2 separate regions of the Homo sapiens genome follow, and region 2 is linked to region 1. The links come from fine-mapping of genetic effects on gene expression. Tissue or cell type: lung. Region 1 holds a variant in brackets; the other region holds the start of a gene. All regions are shown on one strand. Distances are between the middles of the regions.

The links. PIP is the estimated chance that this variant, and not a neighbour inherited with it, causes the effect.
Region 2: NALF1 starts here. The variant in region 1 is fine-mapped to the expression of NALF1 in lung (TOPMed, PIP above 0.99).

What each region holds. Positions count from the first base shown.
Region 1 is chr13:108,068,483-108,071,245 of GRCh38, reverse strand. No RefSeq gene overlaps it. Among named protein-coding and RNA genes, the nearest start is that of LIG4, 150 kb to the left of the region's middle. The variant C/T (reference allele first, on the strand shown) is at 1,242.
Region 2 is chr13:107,866,461-107,868,960 of GRCh38, reverse strand. It overlaps NALF1 (NALCN channel auxiliary factor 1), which reads left to right and starts at 1,465. Exons shown (of 3, transcript NM_001080396.3): 1 at 1,465-2,500. The coding sequence starts at 2,365. It overlaps LOC124903206 (heparan sulfate glucosamine 3-O-sulfotransferase 4-like), which reads right to left and starts at 2,288. Exons shown (of 1, transcript XM_047430833.1): 1 at 1-2,288. The coding sequence starts at 2,064. The coding sequence ends at 1,501. RefSeq lists an enhancer at 429-997.

The sequences.
Region 1 (2,763 bases):
AGACTTCGCTGGCCTCTCCTGATGTTTGGCTTCCAAGCAGCCACTGTGAACTACTGGCATCCTGGCTGGAACCATTCACCACGGAGCCCTCCCTGCTTCTGCACATCCCATTTCCTCTGTCCCTCTCCCTGATTCATCTTGGTTCCCTCCCCTTCATTCTTTCTAATTCGGATTAAGCTTCACTTCTTCCTGATGACTTCCCCTCCTCTCCTGGCCTCTCTTCTTTGTCCTGCCATTGCACTTTCCACGTTGTCCTGTAAATCTTGATTTACTTTTCTCCCTTTTCCACTAGGTACAATTATCTTTGAAAGCAGAGGCTGTGTTTTGTTTGACTCTGTGTCACCAGCACTTATTTTAGTTTTCAGCAGCAATATTTGTAGAATTAATGAATTATTTATGAGTGAATAAAGGCAAGTAAGAAGTAAATTTGACTTAGAAATCTCTTGCTTCTGTGTCGGGGAGGATAATAATAAGATTAAGACAGGATACGTGGGTGGAGAAATGCTGAACTCAGTTCAGACTATGTTGAACATGAGTCACTGGAGGTGGGCAAGGTGGCGGTGGCGGGGGGGAGCATTTAAACAGATAATAAATAACATGAATAACATTTAACAAATATTTGTTTAGAGCCTGCTAATTGCCAGGCAGAACATTGTGCAGTAAAATGGCAGTCACCTTGCCCAGAAGATTATGCCCTTAAGGCCTCCCTGAGGCAAGCAGTTGGTCAATAGGTAAAAGACAGGGGTGCTGAAAGTCGGATGGCTTTAGAATGATCTCCAGAGAAAGCCAGGCCCCAGCGCTTGCCTGGGAACACAGGGAAGCCAGTTTACAGGGGAGACTGAATCCTGGCTTAGATTCCCCCTGACCTAAACTGCTTCCCTTGTTCCATGTCTCCTAAACAAGGACTCCTCTTCAAGGATCAACTTCTAAAGACTAGGCCTATGACAGTAGCCTTCAGTGTAGGACTTAATCGGGTGGTAACTGAATTCTCACTACATGGGTGATACTTTAACTAGAGTCTGCGCCCAGCCGAACTCTTTTCTTCTAATATCTGATTGTTATCTATCCCATGGAGGGAAGTGCTTCTGTCTTTTCTTTCCCTGTGGGTACTCACATCTCCTTATATTTTGGGCCAGTTGATTGCCTTGTGACCTTTGTGAGGTACAGTGAGTTTCTCTTCAAAGAGTCAGCTTGCTCAGCTTCCTTGTTCTTTGATCTCAGTTTTCAAAGTCTAACTTCCT[C/T]GTTCTTTGTGCCTCCTTGCCCCTAGTTAGGGTAAACAACCTTCCTGCCAGTCCTACTCTAAAACTCACATCTACTCCCTTGGTTACCCACTCTGTAACTGACCTTCCCCCTAGAACTATCCTTCCTGCCTTTACTGCACCCTAAAACTGTAACGGACAGCCTCTCCCATCCCACCTAGTTAACTCTATTCAATTTTAAACAGTAGCCAATTGGGTCAGCTTAGATTGTGCAGTCCAACTACAGCCAATGGAGAAAGGGACACAGCTACAGGAGCTGCTGTGTTTGGAATAAAACCTCTTCCCCACCCCACTTGATGTGCTCTTGCAACCACACCAGGCACAAGTGGCACTCTTCTGCAGAAGTAAATCGCCTTGTTGAGAAAGCTTTTTGCCAGAGTGCTGATTTTTCTTTGCAGCACCGAGCATTTGTTTCTAACACCTTAGGTCTCTGTTAGGTTAAAATTGAATTTCTTTTTTTAATTTTTCACAGTGGACATGAACTTCCTTCAGCTCTCCTCTATAATCCAAAGCTCAACGGAACTTGATTTGGGGTTTTTAAAATTTGCATATTTTCATTCATCAAAGGTATACACACATAACTATTTTAAGAAGCCACTGTAAAAAGTTTCCCTATCCTTTAGGAGTTTATATGCTAAACACACACACACACACACACACACACCATAAAATACATGTATAATAAAACTCACAAACAAGTTCGTTCAGAATAAGCTGAGCATTTACACAAATTTGGTTTAATTTTAAAAGACAAGGAGGGTTTTGAGGTGTGGACAAAAAGAGTAAAACTCTGTAAAATATTTGAGAAGATTTATTCTGAGCCAAATATGAGTGACCATGGCCCATGACACAGCCCTGAGGAGGTCCCAAGAAACATATGTCCAAGGTGTTTGGGGTACAGCTTGGTTTTATATATTTTAGGGAGGCATGAGACATCAGTCAAATACATTTAAGAAATACATTGGTTTGGTTCAGAAAGGCGGGACAACTCAAAGTGGGTGGGGAGGTGAGGGGGTTGGGGGGAGGGGCTTCCAGTCTATAGGTAAATTTAAACGTTTTCTGGTTGACAATTGGTTGAGTTTGTCTAAAGACCTGGGATCCATAGAAAGGAAATGTTCAGGTTAAGAGAAAAGACTGTGGAGGCCAAGGTTCTTTTGAAGTCTTATAGTGGCTGCCTTAGAGACAATAGATGACAAATGTTTCCTATTCAGATCTTTAAAAGGTGCTAGACTTTTAGTTAATCTCTTCAGAATTGGGAGGACCTGGAACAAAAAGATCTGTAGGACATCAGTCAGGGTGGTGGGAAAAGTTATAAGAAAAAATTTTAGGGAAAGACGCAAATCTCCTTGGAAGGCTGGGAGGTTTTGCAAAAGCTTTCAGCTAAATTCTGCCATCAGCTAAATTCTCTTAAGGGTAAAGGGTAGGTAACAAGGGAATGTAAAGGAACTTAGCTAGATAAATTGGTTTACTTATGTCCCTGGAAACCAGCCTTTGATCATTCGCA
Region 2 (2,500 bases), 200 kb after region 1:
AATTTTTAGGGGTAAAATTTAGTGTATACAGTACCTTATTATGCAGCAGAAGAGGCTAGTAGGTCGAATCCTGCCCAAGAGGTTTTGCAATTTTCTCTTTAAAAAACACCTACTTCTCCCGCATCCCCAACACCCACAGCGCTCCTTAAAGGAAAATGGATACGGATGCCCCATCCCTTTGGTTTCTCAATGCATTTTACTTAGAAAGAGGTCACCTAGTAAGACCCATGTGGTGAATGTGCACCCGGGCGGGGCATGAGGGTCCTTGGAAAGCACCGCAGAGAGGGCGACACCGCAAACCGCTGTCCCACGCGACCCCCGGGGCGAGCCGGGGCAGCGCTGCACTCGGTGCGCACCGGCAGCGTCTGGCACCCACGCCACCTGCTGCTCCCGCGGGTCTGGCAGGGGCAAGGGGCGGAGTGGGCAGGATCTTCAGATCAAAGGAGACCGATGCTTGCCCACGGCATCCAGCGTAGGAGCCGGAATCGAGGTGACCCCAGATTTTCCCAGAGTGTCTGTCTCCTTTCCCTTCTCAGAACTCCGAGAGCCAACGCTAAGGGGCACCAGAGGCTCAGACTGCGGCGGCGACTCGCAGGCACCCAGCTCGCCCGCGGCTGCGGAGGTCCTCGGAGGAGCCCACCCGGGAGGGGGTCTGGACGCAGGCAGCGGGGGCAGAGGGAGGGTCGAAGCCGCTCCAGAGGGTCCAGGTCCGAGGAGGAGCCCTCGGAGACGCGGACGGTGCGCGCGGAGGGCAGGGCTAGGCAGTGACCCCGGGTGGCACAGGGCTTACTGTTTCTTCCTAAGACTCTATGAGGCCACTTCTAATCGTTTACTTTAGAATAGGAAAGAAAACATAGACAAATGGGTGGCTGTCACCCAGGCAGCTACACGGTCGATGCAGGTGCACAGGCGTGCGCGCCATTCTCCCGTGTCACACAGCAGGACGGAATAACTGCACGCACTGGGAGCGATGGATCTCGCGGTCCGGGATCCGAGACGCATTCAGAGACCAAATGTCACCTCATCCCTCCTCTAGCCAATTCGAGCTTCCTCCGCGGACCCCCACCTTCCATCCGAAGTGGCTCGGTCCTTAGTTGAGAGGACTCTGCCCAGACCCTCGCACCAGTAGAGACCTCTGCCCGGGCGCCTGCAACTCGGACGCTTCCCGGAGCCAGAGCGTGCGGGCGGCGCGGCCGCGAGGAGCCTCACCGGCCATGCCGTCCGCAGTCTGACTTTTATTTTTCTCTTCAGTGATTAAAACAAAATATCGTGGACAGGGGGACAGAAAGGAAAGAGCAGGCGCCTGAGCCCGGGGAGCCGGGCGGGGGCCCCCGGGCCCCGCGGCCCCGCCGCCGCCCGCCCCCGCGCGCCTTCTCCCTCCTCCCGGGCCGAGCCGGCGCCACTGCGCCAGGATGGAGCGAGCTCGGCGCGGGAGGAGATGACGCAAAAGCCAGCGCTCCCCCCAAAAAAGTGTTTCTCCAGGACGAAGATGGCGGCAACTTAGCCCGCGGACTGAAGATGACTGTGGCTCTCGGGAGGCCCAGCCCAGGCGATTCGGCCCGGAGCTCCGCGGGAGGCGGCGTCAGCAGTCGGAGCCCCGGCGGCGGCGCCCGCGGGCGGCCCTGCGGCAGCGGCGGCGGCGGCGGCGGCGGCGGCAGCACTTAGAGCGCGGGGTGGGGGGTGGGGGGGAGGGAGCGCCCCGCCGGAGGCAGCCCAGGCTCCGGACTCTGGGAGAGCCAGCGCGGAGCAGGAGCGGGAGGCGGAGGAGAAGAAGAAGGAGAAGGAAAGGAAGGAGGAGGAAGAGGAGGAGAAGAAGAGGAGGAGGAGGAGGAGGAGGGGAGGCGCTCCGGGCGCCGTCAGTGGGCAGCGGAGGCGCGGCATGCCCCTGGCAGGGGAGAGCGGGCTGGGCTCCGCGGGGCCATGGGGACCCGCGCGCTGACAATGCCTGGGTGACCGGAGCCGCGCCAGCCACCCTGTCACCTCCACCATCGCCCCCTGCACCCAGCCTCGCCGCCGGCCACCAGCACCAGCCTCCTCCGTCTCTCTCTCTCTCTCTCTCTCCATTATTGTTTCCCACTCTACAGAGGATGGGGTCGGCTGATGATTAGGAAGCAAGTCAGACCTTCCTTCAAAGCCTGGTAATATTTATGTAGGCAAAAGAGACAGAGAGAGATAAAAGAGAGGGAGAGGGAGAGAGAGAGAGAGGAGAGAGGGAGAGGGGAAGAGAGAGAAAGAGAGAGAGGAGAGAGAAGAAACGGGAGGAGGGGATAAGGAAATTAAACCCTTTAAGTCAATGCATATTGTGGTGACACCGGCACAGGCGCCCTCACGGTGGAGTCGGCCAGGGCTGTGCGTTCCCAAAATATGACCAGGGGTGCTTGGATGTGTCGGCAGTATGACGACGGCTTAAAAATCTGGTTGGCAGCACCCCGAGAGAACGAGAAACCGTTCATCGATTCCGAGAGGGCTCAGAAATGGCGACTGTCTCTGGCATCTCTCT